Homo sapiens: one gene and its partners. The protein of the gene in region 5 purifies or fractionates together with the protein of the main gene of each other region. This does not show direct contact. Each region holds a gene or a part of one and is shown on either strand. Other genes may lie near its edges. The genes, in order: NT5C3A, MSMO1, RABL3, TPM3, MFSD8, ITM2C and ORC4.

Region 1 (3,500 bases), on a different chromosome or scaffold from region 5:
GGTGTAGGCTGCTACTACAGAGTTATGAAGACTTTAGGGTTGCTCAACAATTTAATCTTAAGTATTATTTCTTGTTACTAGCTATTTTATCACAAATAGAATGAAACTGATTAGAGGAAAAATCAGTACAAGCTCTCATAGCACATGTACAATACAACTAGAAGGAGAAAATTATGCCTCATTTTATAGTCAGTTATACAGCATAGGCAATAATAGTACCTCAAATCCAAGTTCTATACTGGTTTGTACTGGATAATCTTTATTTATATGTTTTTATTCTGGGTATGTTATTAGTAATATTAACATAGTTCATGTGTGTCATGGACATGGTTACAAAAATTCCCTGGACCTTCTATCTTTGCTACAAGAGAATCTCACCACGTAAATCTATCAGATGCCGTGTTGTTCCTACATAATGGGCAAGAGTAGAAAAATCAGAAAAAGGATGGACTGTCTTCCAAAGACTGGAAGATGATAACGAAAGTGTAGAGGAAAGAGGCCGGGCACAGTGGCTCACGCCTGTAATCCCAGCACTTCAGGAGGTCGAGGTGGGCAGATCACGAGGTCAGGAGATCGAGACCATCCTGGCTAACATGGTGAAATACTGTCTCTACTGAAAACATAAAAAATTAGCTGGGCGTGGTGGCGGGTGCCTGTAGTCCCAGCTAGTTGGGAGGCTGAGGCAGGAGAATGGCGTAAACCCGGGAGGCAGAGCTTGAAAAAAAAAAGAAAGTGTAGAGAAAAGACAAATGCTAACATTAAAATTTTCTCCATGGATGAAAGATCTACCACCTACAATATATTTAATTTTAAAAAGCCATATTTAAGTAGGATGACCTGCAATGCAACTAACCTTGATGTAGTAATCCTTTTAACTCAACTGGATGAGTTTCAATGGCTTAAAGGTTATCTATGTATTTTATAGTGATTTTTCAATAGATGGAAAGGCAGATAGGCACTGGTTCCTATTTTTTTTTTTCATACATTAACCCATTCACTCGCCTAACCAATATTTACCATGTGTCTACTTTGTGCCACACACTCTTGCTAAATGCTAGGGATATGATGATGAGTAGTATTTACTCTGCTTTTCTGCTGAGTTTTAGGGACCACTGCTGTTTTGGAATATCACTTCTGTAACTCCCTTACAAATACCTCAGCTAGTAAGTTTATCTCTTGACAACTAATTTCTGTTCTTACCTCAGCCTTAACTGGCAGATGCACAGCAATCAGCATATGTTTGATTCAATAACCAATCCATTATGGTGAAAGCAACACAGGATATATATCATAGACTATTTTTTCACCAAAAAAATTAAATATTTGATTTCAGTGTACCCAAGATGTCTTACCTCAGGCAAATCACAGCTTCAAGTTTTTGATAACGGATAGGAGAATCACACCAAGACCACTTCGAAGAAGGCTGGTTTCTGCTACACTAACAAATGTAAGATTGGTTTATTTTATTTTTATAGAGATAAGGTCTTGCTGTGTTTCCCAGGCTGGTCTCAAACTCCTGGGCTCAAGTGATCTCCCCGCTTCAGCCTCCCAAAGTGCTGGGATTACAGGTGTAAGCCACCATGCCCAGCCAATACTGGTTTACTTTAAATCACAATGGATGAAAGAGAACCAGTAGCTAAAGGCATTGGTGGCTCCTGTGCAACATACAACCATTCATTTTCATTGTGTATTCATAAGTAGTGAATACACAAATGGCACGGGAGTAAAATAATGATGAAATAGGTATAAGAAATATAAAAATGACCATTCTATCTGTCTTGGGTTATATAGTATACTATACTCCTCTCCTGCAATACACAATTAATGTCACTGATCTATATGAGAAATACTTCACAAGAACTTGAGATATGGGGTATTTTACTCAAATACTTTACAATATAGCCTAAGAAAGAGAATCAAAGACTCCTGTATGGAATATGTCAAAGAGTATCATAATATAAGCACACTGTAGAAGTATGATGAAATACATCACATACTTTTTGTTGTGGTGGTTGTTGTTGAACATGCCCCAACTGTTGCATGAGATCACATACTTTTGTTACCTCCACAAAGTCCTTCTGTCTATATCCCTCTTATAAAAACACAGACTTGGTTTGGTGGCATATAAATAATGATACTTCAAATTTGAAGGGCAAGGTATTTTGAATTGTCTGAAAAATTTTCAATTTGATTATGATAAAATTTTATGAAAAATAAATAAGAAGCTAAAAATTTCCATCATTTGTGATAAAAAGAGAACAAATTCATTTTATGGTAAAGCCGCAGCGTAAAATGTTGGGGAGGGAGCAATGCCTTCCTGAAAAGAATCAGGGTATGTTGGTTGATTGATGCCAATCTGAATCAACACCAAAAATGATTAAGAAAGACCTAAAATTCACTTATTTTGACCAATACTTAATATATTTATAGAGATGAAATGGATTTCAAAGTTATGCCATTTTATCCACAACTCAATTGTTTAATATTAGATTTGATATGATCTTGTGGATACACTGGGATAAGATAAAAATGTGAAGCTCTGGCCAGGCGTGGTGGCTCAGGCCTGTAATCCCAGCACTTTGGGAGGCTGAGGCGGGCGGATCACGAGGTCAGGAGATCGAGACCATCCTGGCTAACACGGTGAAACCCTGTCTCTACTAAAAATACAAAAAATTAGCCAGGCGAGGTGGCGGGCGCCTGTAGGCCCAGCTACTCTGGAGGCTGAGGCAGGAGAATGGCATGAACCCCGGGGGGCGGAGCCTGCAGTGAGCCGAGATCGCGCCACTGCACTCCAGCCTGGGCGACAGCGAGACTCTGCCTCAAAAAAAAACAAAAAAAAAAAAAAAGAGAGAAGCTCCATAGTACAGTTACCAAATTTCTGGGTGTGGCTTGGTATCATCAATCCAATGATAATATTCCAGACTAGGGATAATCCTAATTTCCAGGATGAGATTATGACAACTTCAAAGTTTAATTCTGTTTGAACTAGATTTCAAATTATATTAAATTTTGATTAAAAAAGAAAACACGGCCGGGCATGGTGGCTCATGCCTGTAATCCCAGCACTTTAGGAGGCCGAGGCAGGAGGATCACTTGGGCTCAGCAGCTCGAGACCAGGCTGGGCAACGTGGCAAAACCCTGTCTCTACAAACAATACAAAAATTAGCCGGGCATGGTGGTGCACATCTGTAGTCCCAGATACTCGGAGGCTAAGGTGGGAGGATTGCCTGAGCCTGGGAGGCAGAGGTTGCAGTGAGCTGACATCATGCCACTGCACTCCAGCCTGGGTGACACAGTGAGACCCTGTCTCAAAAAAAAAATAAATAAATAAAAAGATTTTGTATTAAAAAACACACATAAATACATTATATTTAAAATAATGAATTATTATTCTTAAACTAAAAATAAAAAACAAAATAAACTAAGGGTTATACAATCCACAATGTACAGAGAAAACAATTCATATTTTAACCAAGACTAAAAAAATTACTTGTACTTTT
Region 2 (3,500 bases), about 37 Mb from region 5:
AGACTTATTAAATATCTCATTAAGTATTTTTTAGAATTTGATTACTGATTGAAATAATAATTTACATTTATTTCTTATTTTTTTTGAGACAAGGTCTCACTCTGTCGCCTATGCTAGAGTATAGTGCTGCAATCTTTCTGCTTCAGCCTCATAAGTAGCTAGGACTTACATCACCATGCCTGGGTATTTTTGTATCTTTTTTGTAGAGACAGGGTCTTGCTATGTTTCCCAGGATGGTCTTGAACTCCTGGCCTCAAGCAATCCTCCTGCCTTGGCCTCCCAAAGTGCTGGAATTACAGGCATGGACCCTGCACCCAGCGATAGTTTACATTTATTGAGCTAAATGATACACATTATGAAATTAATTTCCTTATTTCTTTTTACCTTTTCTATGTATTCTACTAGAAAATTTAAAATTACATACGTGGCTTCATATTTCTATTGGATATCACTGCTTTAGCCTCACAAAACAAAGCCCTATGTACTTTTAAAATATTCAGCAACATTAATGATAATATTCTATTTCTAGTCCCTTATACTCACCTTTTGAATTTTGTATTTTTTCATATAAGGTATAAATTGAAATAAAAATCCAGGTAAACAGAATAAGAAATAAAGGGCTTCATGAACTATAAGGGATCCCCATGTTGCAATCTGGAACTTTGTATAATTATTCAACATATAGTTCCAAGCATTTTTAAATGGTTCTTGCAGAGGATTCTCAGGTAAAAGTGAATCTACATATTCCACAGCCAAGGATGCTGAACTAAAGATGCTGACACTTTCATTTGTTGCCATTTTTCAAATCTCTGCAGACAGCCTTATAATTCTGTAGAAATGAATACATATATAATAAGTTAAACAATGAGCTTTCAAAAAATAAAACAGTTAAAAAATGCATCCTCTGATCATTTTAAAAATGATAATTACTAAAGGAGTATAAATTTTTTACCAAAAAATTACTAAAGGAGTACAAATGGTTTTACACCATTTTAAAACATTTGCTGGATATCATCACCATTTCTATTTGTAGATATTCCTTTAAAAAACACATTATTTTCAAGAACAATAGCTAAAAGAACAATAGGGGAAAAATTTTTTCAAGCTATATTTAAAGAAATCGTCAGTGTGGTTCTCATGGAAAAGGTTCTAATTTAAATGAGCAATAGCTGGGTTTAAAAGTATCACTTAAAGCCAAAAGAACCTATAAAGAAAAAGCCTGCCAAATATGAGTATATAAAAATTAAGTACCTCCTACTGGGGAATAGAAAGACAAAGTCAAAGATTAAATGACAAACTGGGAAAAATATTTCCAACATTTTACAACAAAGGGCTACAAAGTGTGCTTTAGAAAAAAGACTAAAAAGACAACAGAAGAACGACAAATGCCATTCACAAGCAGTTCACAGAAAAATAAAGGCAAATGGTCACTAAACAAGGAAGAATCTTCACTTCATTAAATGAGGAAATGCACCCTAAAACAAAGAGACACTTTTAGCCTGAGTAGCAAATCTTTAAAAGCTTATTAATGTCCAGTACTGGTAAGAGGGTGAGAGAACAGGCATGACCACACACTGTGGGCAGGGGGGATACATCAGTGTATCATTGGAGGAAAAATTAGCAACACCTAATTCAAAATGAATACATCCTTTGATCCAGCAACTTTCTCATTCAAGGGTACAAAGACAGATCCGCTAAGATGGAAGGAAGCATTGCTTGTAGCAGCAAAAACAAAGAGGAAAAAATAAAAGCAAAACACAAATAAGCCATCAACAAGGTATGGGTTAAATAAATTAAGTCCTTCCATAGACAATTATACAGCCATTTAAAAGAACAGGGAAGATCTATACGCTCTACATAGAAAGATGTCTAAGATACAGTGTTAATCCAAGTAACAAGTTACAGAACAGTATGCATAGCAAGAGCCCCACTTAAGATTTTTTGAAAAGGATATGTATTTTATCTATGCACTTTTATGCATATGTATATACACAGACACACAGAAACAAAAAATGTACATATGGATAAAGGGAAAAATTCACACTGGTGACTTCTAGGAAAACAGAGTTGTGTGGCAGGGCAGGAGATAGTGTTAATGAAGACAGCGTGGCGGGGTAGGGGAGAGTGTTATGGAAGACAGCTCGGCGGGGTAGGAGACAGTGTGGTGGAGTAGGGGACAGTGTTATGGAAGACAGAGTGGCGACGGGGTAGGGGAGAGTGTTACGGAAGACAGAGCGCGGCGGGGTAGGAAATAGTGTTATGGAAGACAGAAAAAAAAATCTGACATATGTCTTTTGCACAATTTAAACTTTTTAAATGAGCATGTTCTACTTACCTAATAAATAAGCTCAATAGGTCACTAACCAAAAAATAAACTTCTCAAGGGTCACTTTCCTAAAAATGTTCACCACTGCTGCTTCTAATTTATGAATTTTTTGGACCATTTTAAAAATGAGTATTTTAAAGCCTCAGAAGCATTCTAAATAGTGCTTTAAAAGTCCCCTTCCCCAACACTTCTCAAACTGACCTTTTATCCCATTCTACAGAAGGAATATTGAGAACCTAGCCAACTCCTCCAGGCATCTGAATTCACTTCAGGCCGTCCTCCTTCTGTCCTACTCATCTCAAATGACTTACACCACAGTGACTATAGTGTTCCATCCTGTGTCATTACAGGCCTTAAAATTTCTTTGCTCATTCATTCTTTCCTCTAAGACTGACTAGTCTTCCTGTGTTCTTATCTTACCTCAAGAACTTGTCCATCACTTATCCTTTCCCATCTTTCATCCTTCTCCCTTCATGGAATCCATTCCTTCAGGTCTAAAAACACATTCACGTCTTTTCTTTTTTTTTTTCTTTTTTTTTGAGACAGGGTCTCACTCTGTCACCCAAGCTGGAGTGCAGTGGCACAATTATGGCTCATTGCAGCCTCGACCTCCCAGGCTCAAGCAATCCTCCCACCTCAGCCCCTCGTAGCTGGGACCACAGGCACATGCCACCACGCCTGGCTAATTTTTTTAATTTTTTGTGGAGACAGGGGTCACCCTATGTTGCCCAGACTGGTCTTAAACTCCTAGGCTCAAGTAATCCTCCCATCTCAGCCTCCCAAAGTGTGGGGATTATAGGTGTGAGCCACTGCGCCCAGCCTACATCTTCCTTTGTTGATAAACACCTTCCTAGCCTCCATTACCTCTTCCAAGCCACTGTCCCATTTATCTTTCTTTGAACCAACCAACTTCTTTCTCAAAGGAGAGCTCTACATAAAGATTGCTTAACTCAGCTGGGCATGGTGGCTCACGCCTGTAATCCCAGCACCTTGGGGAGGCTGATGCGGGCAGATCACCTAAGGTCAGGAGTTCAGGTGAATCGCTTGAAATGAGGAGGTGGAGGTTTCAGTAAGCTGTGACTGCACTCTAGCCTGGGCACCAACAGCAAAACTCCGTCTCAAAAAAAAAGAATAAAAAAGGTTGCTTAACTCACCCACACAACTCACTGAGCTA
Region 3 (3,500 bases), on a different chromosome or scaffold from region 5:
CCCTCTCTAATAGCCTAGGCTAGTAATCCTTCAGAAGGAAATAATGAAGTGTCTTTACTTCTCTCCCTTAAGATTAAGATATATTATCATATCACCCTGACTCCTTTCATCTCAGCCCCACCTTGATTCTTCTAGCACATGTTCTACAAAGCAATAACTCTCAGCCCAAATGAAAGAGAAAGAATAGGGGAAAAGGGTACTCAAATGCCCTTAAAAGCTCAAAAGTCTTACCTAAAGATCCTCAGTAAAGTCTTCCCTGTCCATCTAATAGCCAACTTAGGCCTTTGTAATTCTTTTACTCCCCCGTCCAAAATTCTCACCCATAGTTTTGCCATATTTATAGCCTGGGGAAAAGGAAAGGGAGAAAATATATGCCAGTTTTTTGCCCTAAAATGGAGATTTTATTCTGCTTACCACCAGTCTTTACTGTCAGATTACCTGAGTGCAAATTCTGACTTACCATGTGCCCAAGGACAAGTTACTCTACTTCTCTGAACTTTAGTTTTCTCTTGTGTATAAAGATAATAATAATTCTTCATAGGACTGTTCTGAAAATTAAATTAGATAACACATGTAAAGCACAATATTTAGTACATTAGTACTGAATAAATATTAGCTGTAGTCTTTAATGGTGGTTCTTTATTCCTTTTTTTAAATCTGTGCCACTGATGCTGATTAAAACCCCTCATTGAGGAAGGAAGAGTGGGTACAATTGGATATTAGGGCAAGTGTCAGATCTCTATTAGTTTCAGACACCAGAAGAGATGCAGGTTTATCTAAGCTGGCTGGAACAAGTCAGCTATAGCTTGTACAAGCCCTTTAGTTACACAGATGGCTATAAAAACTGTAGAAGCCAGCTAATTCTACCTCTTCTGCTTTTCTTTTTCAAATTGACACATACCACCTCTTGAAGATGGAGGAATCATTGGTTTCATGTCCTATTCACAATCTGGGTAATATAGAAAAGGGTTGGGAGTTTGAAACCTGTAGTGTTTTGACCATAAGGTGATATCCTAAATTCTAGTGGGCATCAAAGTTTTTCCTCTTTTGTCTATATCTTGCTGTAATAATTAATTCCCTGATTTTCCTTTCTATCTAGGATTTTAATTGATTCTCTTCAGTTGTATTTTAGTGTATTTCTGGGCCTCGTTACATTTTGTTATTTTTCTCAATCTATCAAAATCCGTGCATGTACTTTCTACTATCCATACTTCTTTACTATTTAATGTCTCACCCACTCTCTTATAGTGGCATATTTCTTTTGCTCTAATAACTAAATCTCTTACAGGTAGGAAGCTTACATAACTAATCATTATTCAAAGAACTAGAAAATTAGACATTTGAATAGATTAGTCTCAGATGATCTACAGGACACTATTTTGTCAGCTAAAGAATAGCAATTGTATCAAATCAGTACTATTTTAGTAGATTTTCATTACCTAATATTACTTTTAGTGAGTATAAGTAATATATGTATGTACTGGTATCTATGGCAGTACTGTGTACAGTGAAGAAACAACATAACTTTTTGAATGAATAATTTCATATGTACTTGAAGTAGTTTTGATTCTCTTGATTAATAAAGTGGTTCTACAGGTAGGAACAGGCATGGAGTAGGCACTCAGGAAGTGTTGAATGAAGTAAAGATCTGCTAAAAGTTTAATGGGATTTCGTCAGCCCTTGTAAAATAAAGAGTTATAAAACTGACAGAGAAAGGTTTATGGCTATTTATAAATATTTGTAGAGAAAATTTTAAAATAATTGTCTCTGAGTTGTTAGTCATACTAGAATGCTAGATTCATTAAGCAACCTAATGCTTCTGTTTACTAAGCTTCATTTGGCCAATTGTGAAATGAAGAGGAATTGTTAAGGGATTAACATTGTTTTCTCTGATTATTTTAGGTATTATTTTCGTACACGACTTAACAAATAAGAAGTCCTCCCAAAACTTGCGTCGTTGGTCATTGGAAGCTCTCAACAGGGATTTGGTGCCAACTGGAGTCTTGGTGACAAATGGGTGAGCCAATTTCACAATTGGTTTGAAAGATTGTAGCAATCACAGGAATGTACTTCCCTGAATAACACTTTGTAAAATGTTTGATTTGCAAAGATTTTTCTTTCAGTGTATAGATTATCTTTTCCTTTTAACAGTATCTTTCACAAAGCAATAGTTTTCATTTTGATGAAGTCTGATTACTCTTCTTTTCTTCTATGGATTGTGCTTTTGATATCATGTCTCAGAACTCTTTGCCTAATCCTAGATGATGCAGGTTTTCTCTTATGTTTTCCTCTACAGATTTTATGGTTTTACATTTTTATAGTAAAACATTTATATAAAACATTTTAAGTTTTATAGGTTTGCATTTAGATTTATGATCTAAGTTAGTTTTGTACGAGATGGGAGGTTTTGGTTGAGGTTAACGTTTGCATATGAATGTCTAACTATTCCAGCACCATTTATTGAAAAGATATCCTTTCTCCATTGAATTGCTTTTGCTCCTTTGCCAAAAATCAGTTGACCATATTAGTATGAGTCAACTTCTGGACTCTAGTTCTGTTCCATTGATCTATGTGTCTGTCCCTTCACCAGTACTACGCTGTCTTAATTATAGTCTTAAAATTGAGCAGTATGATTCCTTCTACTTTATTCTTTTTCATAATTGTTTAGCTATTATAGTTTATTTGTTTTTCCACATGAATTTTTAGAATCAGCTTGTCTATATTGACAAAAATTTTGGTTGGATTTTTATTAGAATTGCATTGAACCTATTGATCACATTGGAGAGAATTAACATCTTTATTCTGTTGCATCTTCCAGTTCATGAACACAATATATCTCTAAATTTATTTAGATCTTCTTTTATTTCTCTTACCAGCATTGTGTAGTTTTCAGCATACAAATCCTGTGCATGTTTTATTAGATTTATACCAAAATATTTAATATTTTTTAAGCTATTGTAAATTGTTTTTTTGTTTTGTTTTGTTTTGTTTTGAGACTGAGCCTTGCTCTGTTGCCAGGCTGGAGTGCAGTAGCACGATCTCAGTTCACTGCAACCTCTGTCTCCCAGGTTCAAGCAATTATTGTGCCTCGGCCTCCCAAGTAGCTGGGATACCTGGCTGATTTTTGTATTTTTGGCAGAGACAGGGTTTCACCATCTTGGCAAGGCTGATCTCGAATTCCTGACCTCAGGTGATCCACCTGCCTTGGCCTCCCAAAGTGCTGGGTTACAGGCATGAGCCACCATACCTGGCCATAAATGGTATATTTAAACTTCAGTTTCAAATTTTCCATTGCTAGTATAAAAAAAAATAGAATTGATTCTGAGTGCTGACCTGTATCTTGTGACCAGAGTTTTTTAGTACAATCCTTAGGATGCTCTACATAGACAGGTTTATTTCTTCCTTTTCAATCTGTGTGCTTGTTGTCTTATTTCTTGCCTTTTCGCACTGGCAGCAACTTCCAAAAGGGTACTAACTAGGAGTGATAAGAGTGAATATCT
Region 4 (3,500 bases), on a different chromosome or scaffold from region 5:
TCGGGAGGCTGAGGCAGGAGAATTGCTTGAACCCAGAAGGCAGAAGTTGCAGTGAGCCGAGATCGCGCCACTGCACTCCAGCCTGGGTGACAGAGTGAGACACAGTCTGAAAAAAAAAAAAAGAAAAACAACAAAAAAAGAAACTTTCCCTACAGGCACTGCCATGCAGGATTTCTGGAAGCACAATAGTAAAGAGACTTGAGAACGTTATCTTCCCTCTTATTTCTTTGTATTCCTCCCACCTTCCCAGTAGGTAATCGTGATAAATTTTTCTTCTGGGACAGCTCTCTTTTCTCCTAGAAAATTAGGATGTGGAACAGGACTTACAATGAAGAGTCCTAATCCCTGAAAGGAATAGTAGGCAAGACAGTTGCTGCCCTCAATGTCTAGTTCTAAGAATGCTCCCTGCAGAGCCTCTGTTTTCCTATCACCTTTTGGAAATACCGAGCAATGAGACTATTCAGAAGAAACAACTTGGATAGATAATAATTTTCTCAATAGAGTAACCTGCACACTGATTTTTCCCCCAGAAATTAGGAAGGAAGATCAGGGTTCTGACTCTTAATAGACTCTACCCTGATGGCCTAAGAATTTTTCTAACTTGCTTTGTAGAAGTCTGATCAAGATGTGGCAGAAGTGACACTTTGTCATCTGGGTGCTGCTCAGCAGGGGGCACTATTGTACCTCCCTGTGCCCTGGTAAAGCAGCAGAAGACCTCATCCTAGCCAAACCAAGAGGGTATTGAGAGCACCACTGCATTTCTGAGACTGGTAGATTTGAGCAGATAATCTCCTCTTAATGCAGTCAAACAGATGGACTGACTCATGATAGCCTTTAGAAGCACAATGGATAGACAGCAAGGGGCCCAGTGCTATTGTGTTCCTAGTAACCAGCAATACAATATATCAACAGGTGTATATGTCCATCGTTGTCCCTTCTCTCCCCATCCTTCCTGCCACCTGTCCCTAAAAAATGGTGTTATGACTCTATGTCCTAACAATGCACTCCTCTTTCCCTTTGTTTCTCCCTAAACAGCATCTGATTTCATCTTGGATTAAAATGATCTTAGATGTGGTTGCACAACAATGTAAATATGCTACTACTGAATTAGACATTTAAAAATGGTTAAAATGGTAAGTTTTATGTATGCGTATTTTACCACAACTTAGAAAACAAAGTTAGACAAATTTAGGGAGGAAAAAAAAGTTTGGACTCGCCTTGCCATACCCTTGCCCTTTCTTTATTCAAGCAGTCCTAGTAAATCCTGCACTTTTCAGAAAGGCTTCTCAGATAACCAGAACTGCTTGTGTAAACACGTAGTTATTGACTCCCTCCTCCTTCTCTACTGCTTATATCTACTTCAAGATAATATGCTCTGTTTACTTATTTATTAACCTCAAGGACAGAAGCTGAGCTGTTAACTTCCTTTGTATTGGACAGAGTATACTCCCTCCAAAGATGCATATATTATGCTGCTGATGACTCTTACCTTTGCTTTCTGCTTTTAACCTTGTTGGTCCTTATTCAGCACCTCTCCCAATTCCTATAAACACTGTCCTTCTTTGACCCTTTGAGGCAGGGGTCATCCAACTTTTAGGGTCTTGTGGCCAGAGAGATAAGAAAGCCAGTAGACAGTATGTACAAGAATGAGCATGACTGTGTTCCGATAAAACTTTATTTACAAAACCAGGCTGTTGCAAGATTTAACCCACAGGTGGTAGTTTGCTGACTCTAGCTTTGAGGAAAGAAACCTTTCTTCTTGCTTGCTCCTGGCCACAACCTTCCCTCTCCTGTTTCTTGTTCTTATGCATATCTCTGAGGGTACTTTCTGACTTGGGAAAGCTAACAAAGGGGAGAGGGGTTGAATGAGTATTTTTAACCCTCACTTTACATATTTAAATGGGTTTTGGTGGATTCCTATGTAAATATGAAGAAACTTCTTTCAAATGAATATACTGAGTAGACCACATCTAGGTGAGGGGTGCTATGTGTGTGTATGTGTATGTCTGTACATGTGTAAAACAGATTAAGATAGACAGAATTCATCCCCAGGAAATCCTTTTATATTCCTAATGATTTTGATGTATTGCGTACAGCCTCTATGTTATTCTCCTTCTCATGATCTCAGGTTAGACTTGTTCTTTTTCTTGCTCCTGGAAACACCTCCTCAAGCCCACATACTAGCCGTTTCAGCCTAAGAGCAGACCCAGATTGATGTTACCCAATTTCTCACAAAACTGTTATTAACCTGACATTGTGCTAGTTTGTGAAAACTTCTATCTTCATGCCCATATGTTAGAAACAGAGAGATCCATCCAAATATACCAGGAACCTAGGCTATACAACTCCAGCCAGCCATCCACTTGCCCAAAGCCCAGGGGTAACCTGTAGATTTGGTAGGGTTGTTTGTTTGTTTGTTTTGTTTTGTTTTTTTGAGTTTTCTGAGAAGGGAGAATTTTTATCATTTTAAATAGAGACAGGGTCTTGCTCTGTCACCTAGGCTGGAGTGCAGTAGCATTATCATACCTCACTGCAAGCATGAACTCCTGGCTTCAAGCGATCCTCCCATCTCAGCCTCTGGAGTACGCGGGACTACCGGCACATGCCACCACACCTGGCTAATTTTTAAATTTTTTGTAAAGATAGGGCCTCACTATGTTCCCCAGGCTGGTCTTGAACTCCTGGCCTCAGGCGATTCTCCTGCCCTGGCCTCTCAAAGCAAAGTGCTGGAATTACAGGTCTGAGCCACCACACTGGGCACAAGAAGGGAGAATTAATAGTTTGTGGCGGCCTGGCCGGGCGCGGTGGCTCACACCTGTAATCCCAGCACTTTGGGAGGCCGTGGCGGGCGGATCACAAGGTGAGGAGATCGAGACCATCCTGGCTAACACGGTGAAACCCCATCTCTACTAAAAATACAAAAAATTAGCCGGGCGCGGTGGCGGGCACCTGTAGTCCCAGCTACTCAGGAGGCTGAGGCAGGAGAATGGCGTGAACCCAAGAGGCGGAGCTTGCAGTGAGCCAAGATCGTACCACTGCACTCCAGCCTGGGTGACACAGCAAGACTCCGTCTCAAAAAAAAAAAAAAAAAAAAGCCTGTGCTGGCCTTAACTTTTGGAAGAATGAGTTTAAATGATGTATATTTAGTTTGTGTTTCTAACCTCTGGCATAATATATTCAATTCTTACCACTTTCCTTGGCCACTGAAAGTGGTGGAAAACAAAACAGATCAGAAACCTAATGGCAGAGGCCAGGCATGGTGGCTCACATCTGTAATCCCAGCATTTTGAGAGGCCAAGGTGGGTGGATCACTTGAGGTCAGGAGTTGGAGACCAGCCTGGCCAACATGGTGAAACACTGTCTCTACTAAAAATATAAAAAATTACCCGGGCATGGTGGCAGCTGCCTGTAATCCCAGCTACTCAGGAGACTGAGGCAGGAGAATCACTTGAACCCGGGAGGTGGAGGTTGCAGTGAGTCGAGATCTTGCCACTGCATTC
Region 5 (3,500 bases):
TTTTTGAGACAGGGTCTCACTCTGACATCCAGGCTGGAGCGCAGTGGTCCGATCACGGCTCAGTGCAGCCTCGACCTTTGAGGCCCAAGTGATCCTCCTGCCTCAGCCTCTTGAGTAGCCAGGACTACAGGTATGCACCACCATGCCCACCTAATTTTTTTATTTTTGTAGAGACAGGGTCTCCCTATGTTGCCCAGGCTGGTCTTGAACTTCCCGCCTCCAACTCTCAAAGCAATCCTCCTGCCGCGGGAGGGAGGAATTCTCCCACCTTGGCCTCCCAAAATATTGGGATTAGTGGCATGAGCCACCGCACTCAGCCAGATTACTTTTTTTCATATGTGGTAGGCTAAGCCAGGCGAAGTGGCCCATGCCTGTAATCTCAGCTACTCAGCAGTCTAGAGTAGAAGGATCCCTTGAGCCCAGGAGTTGGAGGCTGTAACACACTATGACTGTACCTGTGAAAAGCCACTGCACTCCAGTCTGGGCAACATAGGAAGATTCTATCTCTAATCTTCCTATTTAATGGCTTTTATTAAATTTTAGGAAATAAATTTAAACAAATATAGATAAGTGGTAGAACAATTTAATAAGGAAAACTATGACCTTTTGTTCCCTAAAGATATTTATTTATTTATTTTATTTTATTTATTTATTTACTTTTGAGACGGAGTTTTGATCTTGTTGCCCAGGCTGGGGTGCAATGGTGCGATCTCAGGTCACTACAACCTCTACCTCCCAGGTTCAAGCGATTCTCCTGCCTCAGCCTCCCAAGTAGCTGAGATTACAGGCATGTGCCACCACGTGGGCACAGCTAATTTTTATATTTTTTTTAGTAGCGACGCGGTTTCACCATGTTGGCCAGGCTGATCTCTTAACTCCTGACCTCAGGTGAGCTGCCTGCCTTGGCCTCCCAAAGTGCTGGGATTGTTGGTGTGAGCCACCGTGCCTGGTAATTCCCTAAAGATATTTAAAGTGAAAATATTTAGGTGCGTTTTTCTTTATGAAAAAAATAAGAAATAATATGCAAAAGTATAATGATACATAATATTTAAAGTTCTAGCCGTTAAAATATCTTTCATTTTAGGTACTCTGGTTTTCATTTTCTTCCTGTATTACCTTTAGCTTCATTTGTCATCTCTACTAAAATAGAAAATAATAATTTCATGTTACATAAAATTTTAATTTTCAAAAAAGCAATGAAAACTCAATTTTAATGTTAAATGTGTAGTGGTTTGAAAGCAAAACTTTTTTTTTTTTTTTTTTCTGAGACAGGGTCTGGCTCTGTCACCCAGGCCAGAATACAGTGGCATAATCTTGGCTCACTGTAACCTCAAACTCCTTTGCTCAAGAAATCCTCCCAACTCAGGCTCCCAAGCAGCTGGGACTACAGGGAGTAGCACCACCATACCCAGATAACTTTTTAAATTTTTTTGTAGAGACGAGGTCTTATATCGTTACCCAGGCTGGTCTTGAACTCTTGGGCTCAAGCAATCCTCCCAACTTGGCCTCCCAAAGCGCTGGGATTACAGGCACGTGAGTCACAGCACTGGGCCTGATAGCAAGACTCTTTAAAGAGTTTTCAAAATATCTGGAGAAAAGAGAGTACTTTTCAAAACTCAACATAGTATGCTGAGTAGACCTAATCACTACTAATATCCTTCTTTTGAGAATTTTGACTAAAAAGACTAAATGCCAAGAAATTAAGAATTTTGATACATGAAAATATCTTTTTAGTAGAGAAGACGTTGCTCCAGAATTGTGCCAATTCCAATGACTACCAGCATGGAAAGAATTTTTAGTGTAATGGGTAATAATTTCATGTAATATTATTTTCAAAATAGCAATGAAAATATGGCACTAAACCAGTAAAAAGTAAAATTTGTATTTCTTTTCTTCTTATATTCCTTTAAAAATATATTTTAGGAGAGCATTTTCAAAAAGTAGAAATTCGTAAAAACTGGGCTGGGCATGGTGGCTCACACTTGTAATGCCAGCACTTTGAGAGGCTGAGGTGGTGGGTCACCCAAGGTCAGGAGTTTGAGACCAGCCTGGTCAACACAGTGAAACCCTGTCTCTACTAAAAATACAAAAATTAGCTGGGCGTGGTGGTGCACGACTGTAATCCCAGCTACTTGGGAGGCTGAGGCAGGAGAATCACTTGAACCTTGGAGGTGGAGGCTGCAGTGAGCCAAGATTGCATCACTGACCTCGAGCCTGGGTGACAGAGCGAGACTCCATTTACAAAAAAAACCACAAAAATTAAAAAAAAAAACAATCCTAACAATCTAGACAATCTAGTAGGGGAGTTAAGTAAACTCTCTGTAAATACAGTGTTAGGACACTCCATATTAAGGGCTAATGATAAAGGGAAACGGGAGTATACAGGAAAAGCTTCTGACCCAAATTGTTGTGAGGGACAGTGAGAGAAGCCTTTCCAGGCCAGGTGCAGTGGCTCACATCTGTAACCCCAGCAACTGGGGAGGCTGAGGCAGGATCACCTGAGGTCAGGCGTTCGAGATCAGCCTAGCCAACATGCCGAAAACCCACTTCTACTAAAATTATAAAAATTAGCCAGGAATGGTGGCGGGTGCCTGTAATCCCAGCTACTTGGAAGGCTGAGGCATGTGAATCGCTTGAACCCAGGAGGTGGAAATCCCAGCACTTTGGGAGGCCGAGGTGGGTGGACCACCTGAGGTCAGGTAGAGATCAGCCTGGCCGGTATGGTGAAACCCCGTCTCTACTAAAAATACAAAAATTAGCCGGGTGTGGTAGCTGGCGTCTGTAGTCCCAGCTACTTGGGAGACTGAGGCAGGAGAATCGCTTGAACCCTTAAGGCAGAGATTGCAGCGCACCAAGATCACGCCACTGCATGCCAGCCAGGGCAACAGAGCAAGACTCCATTGCAAAAAAAAAAAAAAAAACAGAGAGAGAGAGAAGGCTTTCCAGAGGAGGTGACACTGGAGCAAAACCTTGAAGAGTGAATAAAAGACAGTGAGGAAGGAGAAAGGGGAGAGCAAAAGAAAGATGGAGAGAGGAAAAGCATTCCAGTAAAAAGGGAGACAAATGTGTAAAGACCTGAGGAGCCTGGGTTCATCCAAGTACCATGGATTTATCTAATAAATTGTTGGCTATACATCTAATATGGGACAAAGTTCAGAATCTAGGATAAAACACACATATGCACGTGTGAACACACACACACACACACACACACACACACACACACTCTCTCTCCAACCTCATAGAAAAACCAACAAGGGATAAACTGATAAGGAAGAATACACAAAAGAATTTAAGAATAAGTCATTAGAGTTAAGAGGAAAGCCAGGATAGAGAAATGTCACAGAAGCTAAGAGGTGGTGCCATGGTTTGAATGTGTCCCCCAAATTTCATTTTTTGGAAATTAATATTTAAATTAATATTATTAAAATATTGAAAGGTAGGACCTTTAAGAAGTGACTGTGTTACATTAGGTAGCTAGTTGGGTATGAACAGGGCAG
Region 6 (2,404 bases), on a different chromosome or scaffold from region 5:
GGTTGGACGAAAGCCTGAGGGGCCGACTCACTGTGGCGGCCACCTTGTTTTGCAGAGGGGGACCTACCTGCCGCAGACGTACATCATCCAGGAGGAGATGGTGGTCACGGAGCATGTCAGTGACAAGGAGGCCCTGGGGTCCTTCATCTACCACCTGTGCAACGGGAAAGACACCTACCGGCTCCGGCGCCGGGCAACGCGGAGGCGTGAGTGGCTGGCTTCACCCACAGTAGCCCCTGTCCCGTGCCCCAGACCACAGTTATCTTCACGCCTAGCCCAGCTGTCAGAGAGCTCAGATAGCAGCAGCAATAACAGCTAGCATTAGCAGAGCACTTCCGTGTGCCGGGCAATGCTGTGTGCTCTTTATGACCTCTTAAGAGTGTAAGTCATTCTCATCCTCATTATTATTTTTGCTGCCCATTTTAAAGATGAGGAAACAGGTGCAGAGAGGTTAACACCCTGGAGGTCACACAGCAGGGAGGTGGCAGACATGGGCAGGCTGACTCCAGCTTTCGAGCTCTCCCCATTTCTCACTGTGCTCTTTGGGTGAATCTGGGTGAATGGTGTCACTTCCTGGCCCTCCTGTGGCTCAGGCTGAGGCTGGTGGTCTTTGTGACTCAGCCAGGATGCAGGGCTCACTGGGGTTTTTCTTTTTCCTCCCAGGGATCAACAAGCGTGGGGCCAAGAACTGCAATGCCATCCGCCACTTCGAGAACACCTTCGTGGTGGAGACGCTCATCTGCGGGGTGGTGTGAGGCCCTCCTCCCCCAGAACCCCCTGCCGTGTTCCTCTTTTCTTCTTTCCGGCTGCTCTCTGGCCCTCCTCCTTCCCCCTGCTTAGCTTGTACTTTGGACGCGTTTCTATAGAGGTGACATGTCTCTCCATTCCTCTCCAACCCTGCCCACCTCCCTGTACCAGAGCTGTGATCTCTCGGTGGGGGGCCCATCTCTGCTGACCTGGGTGTGGCGGAGGGAGAGGCGATGCTGCAAAGTGTTTTCTGTGTCCCACTGTCTTGAAGCTGGGCCTGCCAAAGCCTGGGCCCACAGCTGCACCGGCAGCCCAAGGGGAAGGACCGGTTGGGGGAGCCGGGCATGTGAGGCCCTGGGCAAGGGGATGGGGCTGTGGGGGCGGGGCGGCATGGGCTTCAGAAGTATCTGCACAATTAGAAAAGTCCTCAGAAGCTTTTTCTTGGAGGGTACACTTTCTTCACTGTCCCTATTCCTAGACCTGGGGCTTGAGCTGAGGATGGGACGATGTGCCCAGGGAGGGACCCACCAGAGCACAAGAGAAGGTGGCTACCTGGGGGTGTCCCAGGGACTCTGTCAGTGCCTTCAGCCCACCAGCAGGAGCTTGGAGTTTGGGGAGTGGGGATGAGTCCGTCAAGCACAACTGTTCTCTGAGTGGAACCAAAGAAGCAAGGAGCTAGGACCCCCAGTCCTGCCCCCCAGGAGCACAAGCAGGGTCCCCTCAGTCAAGGCAGTGGGATGGGCGGCTGAGGAACGGGGCAGGCAAGGTCACTGCTCAGTCACGTCCACGGGGGACGAGCCGTGGGTTCTGCTGAGTAGGTGGAGCTCATTGCTTTCTCCAAGCTTGGAACTGTTTTGAAAGATAACACAGAGGGAAAGGGAGAGCCACCTGGTACTTGTCCACCCTGCCTCCTCTGTTCTGAAATTCCATCCCCCTCAGCTTAGGGGAATGCACCTTTTTCCCTTTCCTTCTCACTTTTGCATGTTTTTACTGATCATTCGATATGCTAACCGTTCTCAGCCCTGAGCCTTGGAGAGGAGGGCTGTAACGCCTTCAGTCAGTCTCTGGGGATGAAACTCTTAAATGCTTTGTATATTTTCTCAATTAGATCTCTTTTCAGAAGTGTCTATAGAACAATAAAAATCTTTTACTTCTGACCTTGACTTGAGTGTGGCTGGAGGGGAGATGGGTGTAGGAGGGGTGCTCCGGGCAGGGTCGAGGAGCTGGACCTCGGGAGCAGCAGGCAGGGAGAAGCCTGCAGACCTTGACATCTGGCCCCTAAAGAGCTGGGCATCCTGGATTCAGCCAAGGAGTGTAGGATATCCCCTTCGTAGCACCCTGGATCTGAGCCAGGTAGAGTTCACACTTTCCGGGTGAGGAGGGGAACAGGGCTGGGAGAGCTTACCGACTCGCCCAAGGTCGTGCTGCTTTAAGTGCCTGTAAACCACCCTGTAATGTTCTACCTGGCAGATGACATCATTATTGCATGTCCTTAAGCACAAGGGCGGTGTCCTATTCTCCACCACGTCTGGACAATTTGTAACCATTCCTGGAGGATCTGAAGTGAGGTTTGGTGTGATAATCACAGGGTCACATTCTCCAGAGAATTCTGGAAGCGGCAGGAGAGCTGGCCAGAGCCATGTCTAGGTGGACCCCA
Region 7 (3,500 bases), on a different chromosome or scaffold from region 5:
TATATAAAATAAAATTATCTAAAATATAAACCACATACAGATAAAACTAAAGCCTCATTAAAGTTTACTTCAAACTAATAACATAAATCCTAAAGCTTAACTGTGATGTTCTTTTGAGATAGAATTTAGGAGAAATGACATTTCAACTGTCTAAGAAGAAAATTTTTAAAAAGTATATAATTTGTATTACTGCAGCATTATCCTTCAGCAATATTAGAAACTTTGTGTTAATTTACTAATTTCTAAAATTTGTGTTTTAATTGCTTTAAATCATATAGCAAGGAACATTTAGCTTTATTGCCTTTTAAGATACCTGAACATTTTCATTCCACTTCTCAGCAAAAACCTTGTCTGGAAACTCTGCAGGTAGAGATAACTGTTCTTTAAATATTTTAACATACTGTGGAAAACCAAATGAATTCATTAAGTGTATCTGCCGGTGAGAAAATCTTGACTTCACTCTTTTTTCTAAGAGTTCCAAAATATCCTTAAAAACAAACAGAAATCTCTATAAGGAAGATGAATGTTTTTAAAAAAACAAAAACACTGTACCAATGTTAGAGGTATAAGTAAACTATCACCTATAATTAGTAATGTTTAGTCTACAATACATAATTAAACATTTAAAACATTTTATGCAAACTAAATAATCCACCTCCAGGCATTTGCTGGCTTGGTGATGTCATGCCTTTTTCCCACCATGTTACTCTCAGCTAATCTGTAACATTCCAAGACCCAACATGACTGTTTAAAAAAACTGACAATATTGAATAGCTATATGTCACAATAACACCAAGAGTGTCAATAAGGAATTCTGTACATTCTATGAAGAACTGAGATTAAAAAATTAATAGCATGATAGGCAGCAGGAACCAACTTTAGGAGAGGAAAGTGGCAGAAATGCAACATGGCATTCGTAAGTTATCTTCCGGCTTTTTTTTTTTTATAGTAATGCTTTTAGACTCTATTTGTATTTGTGCTATTTTTCCTTAAAAAGAAATCAGGAATCAAATTTACTGTCAAAGAACACTAAAAACCAAAGGATAACTAATATGTACTGCTTGTAAGGACATACGAAGTGTTCTTAAATGAAGAAAATACTTCCACAAAACTGATAGGCATTCAAACTATCCAAGACATCAAAAGCACAATAGGTAAGCTGTCTTCCTAAGTCACATATATTGCAGGAACTGTCATTCCTAAATCTCTTTTTAATAATGAACTTGAGCAATTTTTCAAAATATATTATAGTACACAGCATATTATATATAATATATATAATTTATATTATATATGTATATATACATCTATATATATACAGTATAGTATAATATATATTTATTACTTAAGTTACACTCCAAGGTATACAACCAAGACAAATGAAACCAGATAACCACAAAAAAAGTGTATGTGAATGTTTGCAGCAGTATTATTTTTAATAGCTTAAGAAATATAAACAACCCAAATGTCCATCAACTGATGAATGGATAAACAAAGTGTGGTATATCTACACAACAGAATATTATTTGGTAATAAAAAGGAATAAAGGGCTGATATATGCTGTAACACAGATCAACTCTGAAAACATGTTAAAGAAGCCAGTCACACAAAACTATACGTTGTATGATTCAAAAATTACTAAACAGTCAGAAAGTGGATTAGCAGATTAGTGGTTGCATAGGGCTGGGGAGGGAACAGGGGATTTGGGGTGATCACTAAAAGGTACGTGGCTCTTAAACTGTGGTGATAAATGCACAACTCTATGAATAAACAAAAACCCTGTTAATTGTATAATTTAAATGAGTGAGTTGTATGGTATAAATTACATCTCAATAAAGCTGTTTTAAAAACAGTGACATGATATTTGATGACTTTAAGGAATTACAGCTAATATAACAATTATATTAGGGAAATATATTTTTAAAGAGCTCTTATCTCCTAAAAATACATTCTAAAATACTTACTGATAAAATGATATAATACCTAGTTTTTGCCTCAAAATAATACAGGAATGAAAGGAGATGTTGAGGATAAATAAAATTAGTCTGTAGTAATTGAATCTTGGCAATGAGTGGAGAAGGGAATTCAGGGCTCATTATTTATTCTTTCCTATGTATATTGTTGAAATGTTATAAAGATTTTTAAAAGGGGAGTAGTTTAAGCCCAGAAATATACATCTCCACATCTAGCCAGATGACTCTCATAATACCTACGTGAAGAAATCATGATATAGAGGAAAGAATTCAAGTGATCAAAATGGGATCATGGTTAGTTTGGGAAGGTGGACAGGAAAGACTAATAGCCTGAGGTAGGAGGTGGGAGGGTGAATAAAAAATTTTGAATGTTTTTATGAGGTCAAAGAAAAGTATAGTGCCAGCATGAGAACTAAAAGACAAGAAAGGTTATATTCAGAGATTCAGATATTGTACATTTATTTTCTATTAAGAAAGAGTTCTAGGTCACCCATATAGGTAGACAGTGGAAGTAATAATCTATACAAGCAACAATTCAGACCCTAAATTTGGGAATGAAAAGAGATGGAAGTAAATACTGTCTTTGTAGTAGGCAGTAATGACAGAAGTTGGCAATGTGGGCATACAGGAACTAGTAAAAACAAAACAAAACCAAAAAACAAAAATGGAATTACTCCCAATGGGGAAGAAGATGCTTGCTGGCAAAGTCACTACTCCCTCTATACTTTTGTTCTCTCCCTATAAACGTGGATACACAGATAAAATTATACTTGAGGCCAGGCGCAGTGGCTCACGCCTGTAATCCCAGCACTTTGGGAGGCCAAGGGGGGTAGATCACGAGGTCAGGAGTTCGAGAGCAGCCTGGGCAACATGGTGAAACCCCATCTCTACTAAACATACAAAAATTAGCCAGGCATGGCGGTGTGTGGCTGTAATCCCAGCTACTCGGGAGGCTAAGGCAGGAGAATTGCTTGAACCCCGAAGGTGGAGGTTGCAGTGAGCCGAGATTATGCCATTGTACTCCAGCCTGGGCGACAGAGCAAGACTCCATCTCAAAAAAAAAAAAAAAGAAAAAGAAAAAAAATTACACTTGAAAGAACTACACAGTTGGAGAATTATATATATACAATAAAAAAGAACATCTGATAACACTGCTAAGAAGTTACTGGCATTTTATTTGGTCCGTTATTGGGTCAACAACACTCACCACAGCCACTTCCACCCAAAGGAAGATTTTTTTTTTTTTGGCAAGAAGGAGGATGCTTCTTTGATCCTTGTCATCGCCTGCTGCTTTTGGCAAGGAGGAATAAAGATATGTGGAGCACCAGCCAGTGATGTATGAGGGATGTTTATACTAAAGCCATGTATCATAAGCTCTAGAGCACAGGAAAGGAGGGGCAAATGACAGTCACTCTATAGAGAAACAGCACTGGAAGGAGGACTGTTGAAATATGAATTAGAAAAAAGTTTCACTTTTCTGAAAAAGAAAAAGGGTTGTAGGAAAGGAGATGTGAACATGTAAATGTG

What was found.
Region 1: the proteins of MFSD8 (region 5) and NT5C3A purify together in Homo sapiens (affinity purification with mass spectrometry; one large-scale study listed by BioGRID and IntAct). This does not show direct contact.
Region 2: the proteins of MFSD8 (region 5) and MSMO1 purify together in Homo sapiens (affinity purification with mass spectrometry; one large-scale study listed by BioGRID and IntAct). This does not show direct contact.
Region 3: the proteins of MFSD8 (region 5) and RABL3 purify together in Homo sapiens (affinity purification with mass spectrometry; one large-scale study listed by BioGRID and IntAct). This does not show direct contact.
Region 4: the proteins of MFSD8 (region 5) and TPM3 purify together in Homo sapiens (affinity purification with mass spectrometry; one large-scale study listed by BioGRID and IntAct). This does not show direct contact.
Region 6: the proteins of MFSD8 (region 5) and ITM2C purify together in Homo sapiens (affinity purification with mass spectrometry; one large-scale study listed by BioGRID and IntAct). This does not show direct contact.
Region 7: the proteins of MFSD8 (region 5) and ORC4 purify together in Homo sapiens (affinity purification with mass spectrometry; one large-scale study listed by BioGRID and IntAct). This does not show direct contact.

What each region holds. Positions count from the first base shown.
Region 1 is NC_000007.14:33,028,277-33,031,776, forward strand, and holds part of NT5C3A (cytosolic 5'-nucleotidase 3A), read right to left. Parts: intron 1,439-3,500; exon of another isoform or gene 1,353-1,438; intron 1-1,352. UniProt on the Homo sapiens protein: Nucleotidase which shows specific activity towards cytidine monophosphate (CMP) and 7-methylguanosine monophosphate (m(7)GMP). CMP seems to be the preferred substrate.
Region 2 is NC_000004.12:165,330,669-165,334,168, reverse strand, and holds part of MSMO1 (methylsterol monooxygenase 1), read right to left. Parts: intron 830-3,500; 5' UTR 799-829; coding exon 544-798; intron 1-543. UniProt on the Homo sapiens protein: Catalyzes the three-step monooxygenation required for the demethylation of 4,4-dimethyl and 4alpha-methylsterols, which can be subsequently metabolized to cholesterol.
Region 3 is NC_000003.12:120,704,517-120,708,016, reverse strand, and holds part of RABL3 (rab-like protein 3), read left to right. Parts: intron 1-1,902; coding exon 1,903-2,017; intron 2,018-3,500. UniProt on the Homo sapiens protein: Required for KRAS signaling regulation and modulation of cell proliferation. Regulator of KRAS prenylation, and probably prenylation of other small GTPases. Required for lymphocyte development and function. Not required for myeloid cell development.
Region 4 is NC_000001.11:154,185,601-154,189,100, forward strand, and holds part of TPM3 (tropomyosin alpha-3 chain), read right to left. Parts: intron 1,843-3,500; exon of another isoform or gene 1,658-1,842; intron 1-1,657. UniProt on the Homo sapiens protein: Binds to actin filaments in muscle and non-muscle cells. Plays a central role, in association with the troponin complex, in the calcium dependent regulation of vertebrate striated muscle contraction.
Region 5 is NC_000004.12:127,944,674-127,948,173, forward strand, and holds part of MFSD8 (major facilitator superfamily domain-containing protein 8), read right to left. Parts: intron 1-3,500. UniProt on the Homo sapiens protein: Outward-rectifying chloride channel involved in endolysosomal chloride homeostasis, membrane fusion and function. Conducts chloride currents up to hundreds of picoamperes.
Region 6 is NC_000002.12:230,877,345-230,879,748, forward strand, and holds the end of ITM2C (integral membrane protein 2C), read left to right. Parts: intron 1-55; coding exon 56-206; intron 207-663; coding exon 664-755; 3' UTR 756-1,904; downstream 1,905-2,404. UniProt on the Homo sapiens protein: Negative regulator of amyloid-beta peptide production. May inhibit the processing of APP by blocking its access to alpha- and beta-secretase.
Region 7 is NC_000002.12:147,947,738-147,951,237, forward strand, and holds part of ORC4 (origin recognition complex subunit 4), read right to left. Parts: intron 488-3,500; coding exon 314-487; intron 1-313. UniProt on the Homo sapiens protein: Component of the origin recognition complex (ORC) that binds origins of replication. DNA-binding is ATP-dependent. The specific DNA sequences that define origins of replication have not been identified yet.